4 separate regions of the Homo sapiens genome follow, and regions 2, 3 and 4 are each linked to region 1. Evidence: fine-mapped expression QTL. A gene starts in region 1. Each other region holds a variant in brackets. All regions are shown on one strand. Distances are between the middles of the regions.

What was found. PIP is the estimated chance that this variant, and not a neighbour inherited with it, causes the effect.
Region 2: its variant is fine-mapped to the expression of SPECC1 in esophagus muscle (GTEx, PIP above 0.99).
Region 3: its variant is fine-mapped to the expression of SPECC1 in whole blood (TOPMed, PIP 0.93).
Region 4: its variant is fine-mapped to the expression of SPECC1 in whole blood (TOPMed, PIP above 0.99).

The regions. Positions count from the first base shown.
Region 1 is chr17:20,007,569-20,011,732 of GRCh38, forward strand. It overlaps SPECC1 (sperm antigen with calponin homology and coiled-coil domains 1), which reads left to right and starts at 1,791. Exons shown (of 15, transcript NM_001243439.2): 1 at 1,791-1,856. It overlaps SPECC1-DT (SPECC1 divergent transcript), which reads right to left and starts at 1,692. Exons shown (of 1, transcript NR_186461.1): 1 at 487-1,692. RefSeq lists an enhancer at 593-1,160 and silencers at 1,593-2,262, 2,283-2,462.
Region 2 is chr17:19,942,894-19,947,057 of GRCh38, forward strand. All of the region lies in intron 5 of AKAP10 (A-kinase anchoring protein 10), which reads right to left. Among named protein-coding and RNA genes, the nearest start is that of AKAP10, 33 kb to the right of the region's middle. The variant T/C (reference allele first, on the strand shown) is at 2,244.
Region 3 is chr17:20,071,527-20,075,690 of GRCh38, forward strand. The region is part of intron 1 of SPECC1 (sperm antigen with calponin homology and coiled-coil domains 1); the gene reads left to right. Among named protein-coding and RNA genes, the nearest start is that of SPECC1, 64 kb to the left of the region's middle. RefSeq lists an enhancer at 2,069-2,288. The variant G/A (reference allele first, on the strand shown) is at 1,724.
Region 4 is chr17:20,046,928-20,051,091 of GRCh38, forward strand. The region is part of intron 1 of SPECC1 (sperm antigen with calponin homology and coiled-coil domains 1); the gene reads left to right. Among named protein-coding and RNA genes, the nearest start is that of SPECC1, 40 kb to the left of the region's middle. The variant G/A (reference allele first, on the strand shown) is at 2,265.

The DNA of each region.
Region 1 (4,164 bases):
TGCTTTATCAAAATTAACTCTAGAATAATTTTTAAAATGTAAATAATAAAATTGCCACAGAAGAAACTTTTCTAGCCTTAAAAGATTTACCCTCCCCAAAGAAAGCATCAGGCTGGGAGGAACATTTTTAACTGGGAAATGATCAAACCTCAAAGAATAGATAATTTTAATGCTCCTTAAATTGTTCAGAGTAAAAGGAAAAAGCAAACATGCCCATTTTTTTTTCTTTTTTTTTTTTTGTAGAGATGGGGGGGTCTCACTGTGTTTCCTAGACTGGTCTCGAACTTCTGGCCTCAAGCACTCCTCCTGCCTCGGTTCCAAATTTTTTATGATGTGAGCATAACATTGATTCTGAAACCAAACAACATTAGACATTCAAAAAGAAAATTATTGCCCATCTCATTTTTGCATATCAATGCAAAGCCTGTAAATAAAATATTAGCAAACAGAATCAAGCAGTATATTTAAAAAAAAAAGACAAGTTTATTGCAGGGATAAACTGGGTTTTTATTAGGAATTTATTATAACTAGGACTCATTACTTCAATATGAGGAAATCAGCTGTCACCCGGTTTGCTCGTCCTTACAGACATCTCCCTCCTCTTCCTCTCTTCCTTTCCAGTGAAAATGTCTTCAAGTTTCCTCTACCAAACCAAAACTTCACCCCACTTCTTTTATTCTTTCCTCCTCTCTTCTCAGAACAAAGGGGTTGTTGCTGACCAGCCCAGGGTTTCTTATTTGGGGCCGGATCATTCTTCCTTGTGGGGCAGTCCTGTCCTTCAGGTAGGATGTTGAGGAGCACCCTCGTGTCTACCCACTTAGGCAACAGTAGCAACTCCCGCATCATGACAACCAAAAATGTCTCCAGACCTCCCCAAATGTACGCGGGGCGGCGAGGAGGGGCAACACCGGCCCTGGTCGAGAACCGCTAGCCTAGGCTCGCCCCTCTACCTGGGCGCCACAACTTGCCAGGGTTGGTTATTCTCCCTGGATCCTTTCCTTCCTCCTCATTTGAGCTTCACGCCCTCAAGTATGACCAAAGGTTCTGTCATTCCACTCCTGCAGTTTTCATTAAGGTCTTAGGCCACTTCCATGTCAAGAAACACAGTGGCTCTTTCTAACCCCTGGCCATGAGGCACCCCTGGAGGAGGAGCCGTGAGGGTAGGGAAGATGCTGAGGGGGATGTTGACCTTGCCGACTTCCAGGCGCCTCCGCTGCATCCCGGAGGAGGCGTTGGGCGGTGAGGGTGCAGCGGGGGGGCGGGCCCCGCAGGATGAGGTGTCCGTGTGCGGCTAGCGCCACAGGCAAGACCGGGCTCCTTGCGGGGCGGAGGTGAGGCCGTGAGCATAGCTCTCAAACTGGAGGGCGCCTCAGAATCACTTGACGGGCTTGCGAGAATGTGGACTGCTGGGCCCCACCTTCATGGTTTTAGTGCAGGAAAAACCGAATAGGCTGGGTGGGACGGAGAATCTGCATTTTCTCAAGTTCCCAGATGAGGCTGAAGCTGCTGGTCCGGGCACCACCCTTAGAAAACCTCCAGTGTAGAGTGCGGAAATGGGGTCCACATCTGGCTTGGGACGCCCAAACATCGATTATGTGCGACCAGAGGATGAGCAGATAGGGAGATGAGACACTGAGAGCTGGGAGAGAGGGGGCCCCCGGCCGCCGGCTGAAGGAGGACGGCGCAGGCGGCGGTCCGGGTACTACATCTCCCAGCGAGCCCCGCGCGGCTCGCGCTCGCCCCCTGGCGGCGATGGCTGGAGGCGCCGGCGGAGCGCGGGTCCCTCTCCTGAGCATCAGTGAGCGCCCGGAGCCGTGGCCGCTGGGGGTTGCGGCGGCGCTGAGCCAGCGGGGCCGGTGAGTACTAGCCGCGCCGCCAGCCCGCCCGCCGGCCGGCTCTTTGCGCCTCAGCCGCGTGGTCTGAAGGGATGGGCGGGCGAGCGCGGGGGTCCGGCAGTCCGTCGTGGGGGCACGGGACTGCCTTTCTGGGAAGGCGTGCTGCGTCTTCGCCGCGGGGGCCCCGGTCCCCTCGTCGCGTGTCCTGTCCCCAGCCCAGGAGGGACGTCCTGGCCTGTCCTGCCCGGCCCGGAGCGGTGGGACCGGTGCCGCAGGTGGCAGCGGCAGGTGGCCGCCTCCTCCCCTCCGGGCCCGAGGGTTGTCGCAGGGACCCGGGACTGAGAGCCAGGTGGCTCCCGACAGCTGCGGCCCTGGAGGCGACCCCAGCCCTCGCCGCAGTGGGACAGGTGCGCGGGCACGCCCGGCCCCGGCTCCTGGGTCTCGGGAGCCTCCCGCACCCTCCCTGTTGTGCCTTGGGGGTGCTGCGTGGTGCAGAGGACCGAGAAGCCCTTCGCCCTCGGCGTCCGCCGCGCTCCCGCCCCTTCCTGGCCGGGGTGACAGGGGAAGGGCTAGGGCTGCGCATCCCGGGTCAGCTGGGGCGCCGCGGCGCAGTGCACCTGGAAGGCCCGGGGGCAGCGCGCGGTGCCCGTGGGTTTCCCGGTGGTGCGGACCTGCGGGCGTGCGGAAGTAACGACCTCCTTCCCCAGTGCCCATGCAAGGAAATTAGTGTTATGTGCTTGCTTTTTTTTTTTTTTTTTCCTAAGGAAGTTTGACTCTGAATATCTTATTTTGCTGGAGCTCCATTTGCCAGCACGTAAGTTTATGTAATAAGCGGCATACAGTTCGGAAAAAAATTTTCCTGTGAAAGTGCTCTTCCTTGCCCTCTGCAGGAAGAATTACGCCGAGCTGGTTGGCAGGCTTATCCACCAGCAACTGTAGGAGCTGCAGGCAGCAGATAAAGTGTTTTTTGAGTAAGGGCACAAGTCAGCCCTTCAGGACAATTTTTGTTTTTGGAAGATTCTGTTATCCAGTTCCAAACACCGTGTTATTTCAGTGTTGAAGATGGGGGAGGAGGGAGGAGCACAGGCTTGTCAATCCTAATACCTCAACAGAAATTAGCTTTGCAGGATTAACTCTCCAAGCAAGCGAGTTGAATTTGGTAGCCCAAACTACAGCTGAAGCTGAGCCTCCATACTAAAGCCTGTCTCAGTTTTAATAGTTTTTCGCTTGATTCGTTTGCCTCTTCCAAGTAGGTGATCTTATTGTCTGTTAAACAACAGATGTCTCTCATGTTTTTACTTTTTTCCTTGTCTTCCATAGATTACTCTCGCTGCAGTGTTGACTATTGAGGTTAAATAGGAATCTTTGTCTTGGGCTTGGTTTTAGGGAGCATTCCCTCTGTATCTTCACCGAGTGTATTCTATCACATTAAGTACATTTCTGTTTATGCCTAATTACTAAGAGTTTAAAAAGTCAAGGGTGGGTGTTGGGTTTTTTGCCCAAATGCTTTTGTGTAGCATGCATTGATATGATCATGTAGATTTTCGTCTTAAAATTGTTAACATAAGTGGTGGTCACATTGCTAGATTTTCTTTCTCTAAAACCCTGGGCTAATTTAAAATGCACTTTTGGATTGTTCACATCAATAAGCTAGCATCTTATTTAGGGTTTTGGTATCTGAGTTTGGCATATAGTTTACCCCATTTTTATCTGTGTTCATAACAAGGATCAGGCTGTCCTCTCTGATTAAATTGGGAAACTTTCCATCATTTTCTATGCTCTGGAATAGAAGAATTATCTGTTCCCTCAAGTTTGGCAGAACTTGACTGCAGACTGCCTGGGCTGCTGCTGGTGTTGTTTAGGCAGTTAATATCAGTATTTAATTACCTTTTCATTTTTTTCATGATCATTTATTTTTCTCAGTTTTTCTGTTTCTTCAAAGTAAATTTAATATTTTCTGTTTTCCTAGAAAATCATTAACATTATTGAAATTTAATATATGCTAGCATAATGTTGTATATAGTATTCTGGTGTAAGAAAACAGACTCTTACATATCTGTATGTATCTGTATGTTCTCTTTCTGATACAGTACTTTTTTTGGTACCTTTTCTCTTTTTTTTTGATCAGACTTGCTTAATGATTATTTTATTAATCCTTTCAAAGAACCAGCTTTTATTAACCAGGATTTATTGATTAATTCTATTGATTTTTTATTTTTCTATGACATTAATTTCTGTTTTTTATCTTTCTACTTAATTTGAGTTTATTTTGTTCAAGTTTTAACTGTTTGAATGGAAAACCTGGCTCATTTATTTAATCAGTCCTGTG
Region 2 (4,164 bases), 65 kb before region 1:
GTTTTTTTTTTTTCCTTTTTCTTCTGAGACAAGGTCTCACTTTGTCACCCAAGCCGGAGTCAGTGGCACGATCATGGCTCACTGCTGCCTTCAACTCCAGGGCTCAGTGATCCTCAGCCTTCTGAGTAGCTGAGACTACAGACAAGAGCTATTACGCCTGGCCAATTTTTAAATTTTTTGTAAGGGGGTCTCACTATGTTGACCAGGCTGGTTTTGATCTCATGGCCTGAAACGATCCTCCTGCCTCAGCCTCCCAAAGTGCTGGGATTACAGGCCTGAGACATTGCAACTGGCCTTTAGCCAGTTTCTTAGCATACAGCGCCTAAAATTCATGGAATCTCTGGATTCTTTTGAAGGCTAATGAGATGACTTGTGGCTGTGGCCTCTAAAGAGCTTTAGGATGAGGGCTAATCACCAGAAAGACCAAGGCAGAATTACACGTTTGGGACTTTCAGCCCTACCCACCAACCTCCCGGGATGAGGGGGCTGAAGGTTGAGCTGATCACCAATAGCCAATGATCAATCATGCCTATATAATGAAGTCTCCACAAAAAACCCAAAAGGACAGAATGGGGAGGGGGGCTTCTGAATAGCTAAATCTGTAGAGGTTCTTGGAGGGTGGCATGACCTGGAGAGTGCATGGAAGCTCTGTGCCCCTCTCCCATACCTTGCCCATGCATCTCTTCCATCTGCCTGTTCAATCTGTATCCTTTGTAATATCCTTTATAATAAATGGGTAAATATATGTAAAGCATTTCCCTGAGTTCTGAGAGCTGCTCTAGCAAATTTATTGAACCCAAGGAGGGGACTGTGGGAACTCCAATTTATAGAAGGTCAGTCAGAAGCACAGGCCACAACTTGTACTTGAGACTGGCATCTGAAGTGGAGGCAGTCTTGTGGGACAGAGTCCTCAATCTGTGGGATCTGATGCTATCTCCAGGTAAACAGTGTGAGAACTGAACTGACTTAGAGGACACCCAGTTGGTGTTCACTGAACAATCATCTGCAGAATTGGTAGCTGACAGGGAAAAAACCCCACACAACTAGAGTCATGGAAGGGTTCTGTTTTGTGAGAGTTCAGAAGGAGAAACTGAGTTTTTTTTTTTTCTACAGTACATCTCCTTTCTCAAATATTTAACACCTCTTCTATTCTCTTTGCTGAGGACTTTGCTTCCTGCTTCCTTGAGAATATAGAAGCAATCAGAAAATTATTTCCATCATCTCTCACATCTTTCAACTCACCTGCATCTCTACCCGTGTACTGCATTCTTTCCTGTGACTCTAGATAAATTGTCCTTGCTCCCATCTAAGCAATCTTCTATGTGAGCACTGGAATTCATCCCTTCTGCCTCCAGACTTCTTTCCTGTAACAACTGTCCCCTCTCCTACATCAACTTCTCCTTCACTACTGCCTCATTCCTATCAGCTGTGTGGACTGCATGTTTATATATATACCTGTTTGTATGCTATAACACACTTTATATGCTTATATATATGCCTGTAACCTCAGCACTTTGGGAGGCCAAGGTGAGTAGATCATGAGGTCAGGAGATGGAGACCATCCTGGCCAACACGGTGAAACCCCGTTTCTACTAAAATACAAAAAAAAAAATTAGCCAGGCGTGGTGGCGAGCGCCTGTAGTCCCAGCTACTTGGGAGGCTGAGGCAGGGGAATCGCTTGAACCCAGGAGGCGGAGGTTGCCGTGAGCCAAGATCACGCCACTGCACTCCAGCCTGGCGAGAGTGAGACTCCGTCTCAAAAACAAACAAACAAACAAACAAAAAATGCAGTCATGCTTTATTCCTTTTTTTCCCTCTCATACCACTCACTTCCAAACCATCAGCAAATTCTGTCAGCTGTACCTTCAAAGTTTTTAAAAATTCTACCACTTCAAACATTTGTGGAAGATGAAGGAGGTAGTGCAAGTATAGATTCTGGATCACTCTAAATCCTCACATAAAAACAGTAATTAGTTAGCAACACCAAAAATCCAAGGATTACATTTAAAACAAGACTATGCAAAGTGGGTACACAGTAAGAGCTAAAGTGAAGGCTCCTTTGAACAAAACTCACTTGAAGGACAGCTATATTAAAATAGTCCAACTGCAAGAGGAGACAAATAATTTGGACAGGATTAAGAATGGGGCTCAAGGAGGAAAAATGACTTGCCTAAAGCCACACAGGTAATTAACATCCTAAAATATATAATGATAGACACTGGGATAGAGGTTTTCTCAAATTC[T/C]TTGATCACAAAATGTTATCAACTTGATCCTTCAGAAGACTTTTCCTTCATGGGATTACATCATCATTAATTTGATTAAGCTTAAGTAAAAGAAAGAGAGTTGCAGTGTGGTTTCATTTTAAGTGTTTTATTTGACTTGAAACTGCTTCCTTTTTATCCACACGCCAGTCAGGCTATTAACTGGTACAGACTCCCCTCAAAAAAAAATCACTAGCCAACCAATTCTTCAAACAGGCAAACTCTAATCAGTCAGAACATCCCTGTTGTATTACTAGGAAAAGCTGGTCTAGGGATGATGATAGTAGCAAATTCCCACATAAAAATAGAGCAACAACACAGAAAACCTCAAATCTCATGACAACATCTGTCAGCAAAACTCAGTGAAACAGTACCCCTTAAATACAAGCAGATAGGGATAAGCCACCAACAGCCACCAGGCCTATGTTATAGCCGTTATAGGTATCTGTGTGGGAGAAAGAAAAGGAAAATGGAGCCAACATGACATGGACCCCAGAATAGCTAACTGGAAGGTACAGTGGGCCAATTTAAGAAACACAGCTGAGACTAACAGGGGTCTTGCTGTCCCCAGCAGTGAGTGAGTGCAAAGCACCCACACTAAGGATTAAAGAAGCCCAACATCGGGACAGATCTGCTAAAAGTGCAAGAACATGTCTTATTTCATAAATCACAAATACTAACTTTTTTGAAGAATAAAAATACATAATATTAGGACTTATGAGAATGTAATATTTATTGAATGAATAAATAACCTCTTTTATCTGTGAATATACGTTCACCTAAGGTCTTCCTGATAAAACACAGTAAAAGCTTTCAAACTATTTTGCTATAACCTATAAGAAATATATTTGTTGAATCAGCATACACATACATACATGTATATATAATGAAAACATTTTTCTGAAATGTTTGTCCTTACTACTCTGAGATACTTTGATTTTTTTATTCTAGTATATATATATATACACACACTAATATGTATATTATATATTAGTATATATACTAATATATAATATATACTATATATGCATATATACTAATACATATATTTTATATATATATATATTTTATATATATATATATTATATATATATATATATATATATATATATATATATATATTTTTTTTTTTTTTTTTTTTTTTTGGCAGGGGGTGAGGGCATAAGAGAAGGCTGGTCCCAACCTACAGTATGAAAAACACTGCCACAGCACAGCAGTTAAGGTATGTGAGGGTCTAGTTTCAAATCCTGACTCTGCCATATCTGAGCTGTTACCCTGGACAAAGCACTTAACTTCTCTGTGCTTCAGTTTCTTCATCTATAAAATAACTGTATTTATCCCACAAAGTTCTTTAGAAGTTAAAATGAGTCTATCCATAAAAAGTGCTTGGAATATTGTCTGGGACACAGTGAGTGTTTAATAAATGTGTACTATTTATTGATCTTGCTGTCATTGTTATTCAGGTTAAAGCCTAAGAATTTGGGTCCAACATATAAGAAAAACTTTTTTTTTTTTTTTTTTTTTAAGGTTAGCAAATTGTCTTTATTCAGAAGAATAAAGTTACGTGAAACTGGGACTGGACATGAGGCTGCCCTCCTCCTTGCACCTCCAGCTGTGCCAAATGACACAGAAATGACACTGTGTGTGGCACAATCAACTGGCAAAAAAAGGCAAGTCACAGGCCATGTGATGGCTCTGGCTAATGCAGGTAGACATCCAGGGTGCCCAGGGACGTCAGGCCCACTGAGAAGTGGGATGAAGCCCTGAGACGGAGAGGCCACCACTGAGACACCTGTCTGGCCATCCAGTTGCCCACTGGTCGTGAGACTCTTGGGCTGCAGCCCTGATGCCTAGAGACTTTGGTACCGGCTTTTAGCCTCACTGGACTTCCAACCCCAGAAGT
Region 3 (4,164 bases), 64 kb after region 1:
AGAATTTTTATTGGAATTACAACACATTTATAAAATTGTTTGCAGAGAATGAATATCCGTTGGGAGAGCATGGTATGCTTTTCATCCAGTCTTCTTTTTTGTCATTCAGTAAAGCATGAATTTGGGGGGCGACTGTAACTTTCTTACCAGGTTTATTTATAGATGCTATTGTAAGTAGGATTTTTTTTAACGTGATAACTTATTTAGGTATATTATTTTATTATACAGTTGAATACATACTTATTTTAGAAAATTTAGAAGCTACAATGTGAATTTAAAAAGTAAATGACACTCAGTCTGAGAGATAAGCACTGTTAACATTTTGTGTGTATCTTTCTATTAATAGATTTACAGTCTAATGAGGGAAGTAAGACATGATCACATGAAAGGCTTAATAATCTGAGACACTATTGAGTGACTAGCTTGTACTTTTTTTCTGCCTAGCCTTTTTTCTCCTTTTGGAAACTGCTTTTCCCATAACTAGTGGAGCTGCCAATCATCCAGGTCCCTCTCCACGGCCAATGGGTTGGACAGTGTATCACCTCAGGCTCTTTTCTGGGAGAGACTCTCTAATCTGGAATCTCAAATGCTAAAGACCTCTAGTCTTGCAGTGCTGCTGGGCAAGGCCTTCCTATCCTCAGAGCACCTGTGTTTGAATGATACCAGCTTAGGAGAGTGAAGCTACGAGGTGATTCAAAACCATTCCTGATGACATCATTGGACCTCATGGTCTAGAGCTGGCTTAAAGCCAGCCTGAATTCATCCTAGACTTTCCTAAATCAGTAAAGCCAACAAACTCACCATTTTGCTTAAGCAAAATTGAGTTAGGTGTCTGTCATTTGCAGAGTCCCAACCACTACCACCTCCTGTGTCTGTGCCATGGTGCCACATGGGGAGTCACCCAGATGAGTTAGGACCCTGTATGCCCCTTGCCCCCCAGGAGAGTGGGTGTTCCTCAGTAAGAGCAGGTTCAGTGCATTGTGCCTGTTGTCTCCTTCAAGGCAAAGCTGGATGGCCATGAGAGGCAGCAGCCTTGGCCAGGTGGGGCATGGGGCTGCCGTGCCAGGCCAGGCCGGCTCTGAACTCCTTACTGCACTCTGTCCATTAGAATGACAGAGTCTGAGTATGGAGGTTAGAATTATAGTGAACATGGGGGATTCTATGTCACAGAGGCTCTGCAAACCCATGCCACCTGCTATATAAGAGCTCTCTGCCATGCAAGAGCAGACTGGCTGCCTTCCACACCTATTATCCAGTAAAATAGCAATTAAAATGCAGCTTGTGGCAATGACTAAGCTTAGCCCAGGCCCGCTGATAGAGTTCTTGGTGCCTGTGGATATAACACATGTTGCTTGTTTACCTTCACAACATTTCTTCGGTGTTTTTTTCTGGGCAGTGTATTTGGTCCCTGTTGCAGTAGATCCCATTGTCACTGGGGCTTACTCTAGGCCATCCGTAGTAGCAGGGAACGTGGACCCCAGGCTTTGTGAGGATGCCCATATCATTTTGGAGCTCCCTGAATTCAAAATTAAGTATGAAAAGATTTATTTAGAACGAAAAAAAATTGCAACAAATTATTGGAGCCTAGGAGTTTCCGATGCCTACCTTTGAGATCCCTTTAGTTGGCTCACCAGAAGCCCCTGCTGTGATATGCTTCCTGGTTGTAGCCCGACTTCCCCTTCCCACCTAGAACTCACAGTGTTCACAGGGTCATGGCAAGGTG[G/A]TGGGGCGTGGCTGAAGCTTCAGGGTAAATCCATTTGTGAAGAGCAGACTGAGTTTTTGTTTTTGTTTTTAAATCTGTTTGATATCTCAGGGAGCAGTCAGCAGCTAGCCAGCCTACATCTTGAAACCCTTACATTTTGGAGAGGTACAAATTAAGCATTGAGGACCAAGTAGGATGGAAATATGATTTTGCACTTTGTGCATGTATGCATGTAAGAAAGAGAAGAGAGAGAGAGATTGTGAGAGGCAGGAGAGAGACGGGGAGAGGCCATCAGAACTTGGGGAGAGCAGAGCCCGCCTGCTTCCTGAGTGAAGCATTGCTCAAGCGCTCTCTGCCCGGCCCCCTCCGAGTGTGGTTTTCCTCCCAGGCCAGCACCAAACCCAGAATAGAGTGGCTGACTTGCTGATTGAGGTCGGCAGCTCCCGAGAAGCAGGAGAAGCAGAGTTTTTGCAGTAAGTACATCGTTGGTTATTATTTAAGACAGAGATGGAAAATCTTAGGATAGCTGGGGAAGAGGTGCTTCTGCTTTAGGTACAATGTCTTACAGACCCAGTGGATCTTGGTGTGACTAAGGCAGTGTGAATACATTCTCCCGTGGTGCATGGACTGGATAAGTTAATGCCACATGCATGATTTTGGGGGGCTGAAAAAGGATTTGAAACCCACCTTTTGACGTGTTGAAAGAAAATGATCTTTTCTCACTTGTTTTATCTTGCAAGGAAAGGATGATTAATGCCAACTTCAAGTTAATATATGAAGTTCTTTAGAAAAGAAGCCCTGTGGGTACTAATTAGTAGCAGCGTGGAGATTATTTTCCCATCCAGGGTGAATAGGGCTGCTTCTGTGCATTCCTTTTGCCAAGTGTGGGATGTCTAAGGTCCTGTGGAGAGAACCGCCCACTCGACTAGTGCTTAGCCCCTGGAACGTTCTCGAGTCATCTCCCCTTGGAGGAGATCAGCACTGTAGTGTGCCCTGTCGTCTGGCAGAGGGTCTGATAATGTCGCAATGCTCAACATCTGGGCAATACATACATTGTGTTAGGGTCTGAAATGAGATGTTTGTGAAGCCCAGATGGCAGAGTTTCAAGCAATAATATGATAAAGTTGGTGGCTTTTCTGGGAAGTTATTTATTATATGGTTACTTGAGATTGTTTTTCCCCCACATCCCATCACAGGGCTGAAGATACCTTAAAATCTCTCTTACCCACTCTATTTTCTAGAAATTAAGTTTTTGCTTTTTATTTCCTTGTCCCACTGACTCTAATTTCCTATAGGTATAAAATGTTTAGCTCAGCGGTGCAGAAGGTCCACACTAAGTTTTCTTGGGAAATGTGGCTTCCACCCCTTCTCGATAGAATGCTAAGGTGCTGCTCTAGCTGCAGAACTCACTGGTGTGGCTGCTTCTGCTCCTTTACAGCTCAGCTCCATGGACTCTGTGTCTCTGTGGTTCTGTTTTAGAGTAGCCGTGTTTCACTTCCTTTAACCTTTCCTTTACCAAGTGAGTTAACATGGAAGCCTGTCTAAACAGAGGAGCCCCCAAGGCAGGAGAGGGGGTGCAAAATAAGCAATACTAAACTTTCATTTGAAAACCTGGAATTTGAAATAAACCACCACCTGTGAAGTATCATTCCTCATTCCAATTTTATTTTTCCAATATGTTATTTTTTTTTTAGACAGAGCCTTGCTGTTGTCACCCAGGCTGGAGTGCAGTGTCTTGATCTCGGCTTACTGCAACCTCTGCCTCCCAGGTTCAAGTGATTCTCCTGTCATAGCCTCCCGAGTAGCTGAGACTACAGGCGCATGCCATCACACCCAGCTAATTTTTGTATTTTTAGTAAAGACAACATTTCAGCATGTTGTCCAGGCTGGCCTCAAACTCCTGACCTTAGGCGATCCACCTGCCTTGGCCTCCCAAAGTGCTGGGATTATAGGCGTGAGCCCCCACACCTGGCCCCAATACATTAACATTTTTTTAAATGATCTAAGTAATTTTGAGCTCTCACTGTACAACATCATCTCATTTGATTCTCCCAGCAGCCCCATGAGGTAGCTACCTTTTTGGTCTTCACTTAATAGCTGAGGATGTGGAGGCCTAGAGAGGTCAGAGAGATGGGTGGGCAGGTAGGTGAGTGGTGCAGCCAGGATGGGAACTCAAGTCTGTCTCAATCCAGAGCTCATGCTCTGATACGGCATTTCAGTAAATTCAGAAATTGGAGAAAATAGTGACTTAATCCCACACTTTAAAGCAACTGTTAAAATTTCTGGATTTTTTGCTGGGTGCAGTGGCTTGCACCTGAAATCCCAGCTACTCAGGAGGAGAAGAAGGAGGATTGCTTGAGACCAGGAGTTCGAGAACAGCCTGGGAAACATAGCAAGGCCACTGTCTCCAAAATTTTGTAAAAAAATTTAGCCAGGTCTGGGCGTCGTAGGTCATGCCTCTA
Region 4 (4,164 bases), 39 kb after region 1:
TTGATGTGGTCACTCTGCTATGCTGAGAGCAGACTCCAGGGGACAAGACTGGGAGGAGGGAAAGGTGCTGACTATTGCAGGAAAGCCGGGCGAGAGATGTTGGTAGATGGGACCAGACTGATTTGAAGCTATGAAGTTCCCATTAATGAGCACATTAAGTACATTTAACTTTCAGTGGGCTGGATTAGGACTACATTTTTCTTAAGGATTCTTGAGTATGAGAATGCTTGTGTTCTTTCATGTTGTAAATGCTTGTGTTCTTTCATGTCTTTCATGGCTTTTGCAGCCTTTAAATAATGCGTGACATTCTAACTTGGTAAAGATGTGTTGGGTCACTTTCTCTCCCTTCTGGCTCAGTAGGCAGCATTCTTTTGTCTTCAGACTCCAGTGTTCTGGAGAAGACTGCAGATGGTCTGCCTTTTTCCGCATTATGGGTCACCCACTTCTTTCTCTGTGTTGGTAGAATCACCAGCCTTGCTAGATGTGTCTTGTGCTGGTTGGACTCTACTGATTTTTCTTGGCATATGCTAAACCCTTTCAAGCTATAGATTCAGTTACTCAATTTCAGGAAAGTTTTCCGGTGTTATATCTTAAATTTTCTTTTCCTGTGCCATTTGTTTTGTTCTGTTCAGAATTAGCAGTTGTGTGTCTGTTGGATCTTTATCTCTCGTATCTAACTTTTTTTTTTGAGATGGAGTCTCACTCTGTCACCCAGGCTGGAGTGCAGTGGCGTGATCTCGGCTCACTGCAAGCTCCGTCTCCCAGGTTCATGCCATTCTCCTGCCTCAGTCTCCCGAGTAGTTGGGACTACAGGTGCCTGCCACCACGCCTGGCTAATTTTTTGTATTTTTAGTAGAGATGGGGTTTCACCGTGTTAGCCAGGATGGTCTCGATCTCCTGACCCTGTGGTCCCCCCGCCTCAGCCTCTAACATCTTTTTAATCACTTTTATGGATTTCCTATATTCCATTTCCCCAAATGAATGTCCGCTTTCACTGACTTCTTCAGCAATTCCACTTCACTTCTTACCCTTCTTCACGTAATGTTCATCAGATAATGGTGTTAGTGCTTTTCTCCATTGGTGTCCTTGACTCATCCGTTACCTTCCTTCAGTAAGGAGCAGGGCCCACAGGGAAGGATATTCCTTGCTTTAACCTCTCACTAAGCTGAGATAAATTTGAATACGGCTCAAGATCTAGAGAAATGAGTCTTTTTTTTTTTTTTTGAGACAGAGTCTTGCTCTGTCACCCAGGCTGGAGTGCAGTGGCGTGATCTCGGCTCACTGCAAGCTCCGCTTCCTGGGTTCACGCCATTCTCCTGCCTCAGCTTCCCAAGTAGCTGGGACTACAGGCACCTGCCACCACGCCCGGCTAATTTTTTGTATTTTTAGTAGAGACTGGGTTTCACTGTGTTAGCCAGTATGGTCTCAATCTCCTGACCTCGTGATCTGTCCGCCTCGGCCTCCCAAAGTGCTGGGATTACAGGTGTGAGCCACTGCGCCCAGCCGAGAAGTGAGTCTTGATTCTTGTCATCTTCCCTCGATTTTGTTCAGCAAATTCCTGTCTCAGAAATAGCCTTTGTGTTTGTTGCTCAGGGTTGAGGCCCTTCTCTACTTTCATTATAGGTTGAATTTCCTTCTCTGTTTTGACTTTAATAGAAGGGGAGAGTAGATATTTTTTCTTTTGTAAGAATTCCCAGGGCCAGGCGCGGTGGCTCACGCCTGTAATCCCAGCACTTTGGAGCCTGAGGTGGGTGGATTGCTTGAGCCTAGGAGTTTGACATTAGCCTGGGCAACATAGTGAGACCCTGTATATACAAAAATTAGCATGATGGCACGTGCCTGTAGTCCCAGCTACTCAGGAGGCTGAGGTGGGAGGATTGCTTGAACCCAGGAGGTCGAGGCTGCAGTCAGCTGAGATCATACCATGGCATTCCAGCCTGGATGACAGAGTGAGACCCTGTCTCAGAAAAGAAAAAAAAAAATTCCCAGACATATCGCTTAAAAATTATCTTTTGTGAAAAATAATATATTACAGTATATAAAATTCAACATGTTTAACGGGGAAGGAGGGAAAAGAAGATTATCTTCTGCCCCTGTCCCTTAGCTCCCAGTTCCCAGCCCCAGGAAGCACAACCATATAGAACACATTCCTAGAGTGGAATTGCTTTGTCAAAGGATATATGCACTTGTACATTTGATAGACGCTGCCAGATTGCTTTCCATAGAAGCCATCAGTATATATATGCTATCAGCAAAAAATGAGA[G/A]TGCCAGTCTCCTCACATTCTCACCAACATGATGATGTTTGAAGTTTTTCAAATTTTTGCCATTCTAATAGGTAAAATAGATTTGAAAGTTTTATTTTGCATTTCCTGTTAATACAGGTGGTTGAGGAGCCAGGTGCGGTGGGGCACACCTGTAGTCCTGGTACTATCATTTGAGCCCAGGAGTTTGAGCCTAACCTGGGCAACATCGTGAGACCCTGTCTCTCAAAAAATAAATAAGTAAAAGTCAGTCTGAGCATCTTATGTGCCGAAGAGCCATTTGTATTCTCTGTGAACTACCTGTTCATTACCTGTCACATTTTTATTTTGGGTTAGTGGTGGTTTTTTTGTTGGGTTTATATAGGTACTCTTTATGTGTAGGAAAATTAACTCTGTCTGGATATGAGTCAAGTTTTGTTTTCCCAGTTCATTCAGCTATGATTATTTAGCTGTGTTTGTGCTATGTTTTAGGCATGTAGAAAGATTTGGTTTGTATGTAGGTGATTTTCTCTTTTATAACTTCAGGGTTTTTATATTATAGGCATTCCCCATCCTAAGAGTCCGAGGATTCTACGGTGTTTTCTTCTGCTAATTATACTATTTTCATTTTTTTCTTTTCTTTCTTTATTTTTATTTATTTATTAATTTTTTTGAGTTGAAGTTTTGCTCTTGTTGCCCAGGCTGGAGTGCAATATCTCAGCTCACCGCAACCTGTGCCTCCCAGATTAAAGCTATTCTCCTGCCTCAGCCTCCCAAGTAGCTGGGATTACAGGCATGTGCCACCATGCCTGGCTAATTTTGTATTTTTAGTAGAGATGGGGTTTCTCCATGTTGCTCAGGCTGGTCTCGAACTCCCGACCTCAGGTGATCTGCCCACCTTGGCCTCCCAAAGTGCTGGGATTACAGGTGTGAGCCACCGCCCCTGGCCAATTTTTTTCTTTTAAATATTTGGTGCTCCTCACCAACATGGCACATGTATACCTATGTAATAAACCTGCATGTTGTGCACACGTACCCTAGAACTTAAAACTATAATTAAAATAAATAAATATTTGGTGCTCCTTCAGTTACTCCTGGTGTTAGGAGTAAGGTAGGGTGCCCAACTGTGTTTTTCCTGATGCCTATCCTGCTGTCTGAACACCATTTGTTGGTTCCTTTGGAATACTAGATTTATCGTATATTAAATTCCTGTATATGTTTGAACCTAATTCTTGGTCTAGTCCATGTCTGTTTGTCTATTCATGTACCAATATCAAACCTTTTAAAATTTAGGCTTAAAATATTTTTTAAAATGCAAATTCAATAAAATCATTTTGGAGAGAAGTCTTATTGGAATATTTCAGTAGTTCCTTCACAGTAAGATGTTGTAGATCATTCTTCTGAGCACAATCTGCTATTCATTGTTAGGGCATGTGTTTAGTTACCTACTTTGAATTGATTTTGCTGAAAGAAGTAAGGATTCTTGGGTGGTCTTTCTATATTCTCCTACCCTGGCTCCTTGGTAATGTGGAAAATGAATTTTCAGGTAAAATTGTCAGAGGACAGTAGGATGGTTTTTGTTCTGGAGTATATTAACATGAACTGGCCCAACTTAGGCTCACATTTGATAACTTCATGTTAGTAAGCATCCTCCTTTGGTTAAATAAACTGGCTGTGGATATTCTCCAGGGAAAAAGTTACTAGTAACTCTTAGAAAACTAATGCATACATGAGCTGGTAAAGAGGAACTTCTTAAAGCACAATTTTAGAGTTATAGAAGCATATATTTGTTGTTATGATCTTGCAAGTTTGCTAACTGCTTTACTGAAAATAGCGTGCATGGAAAAACATAGCATAGTAGGTCCCAAATAAGCACTTGGTTCTTTCTTTCTTTCTTTCTTTTTCTTTCTTTCTTTCTTTCTTT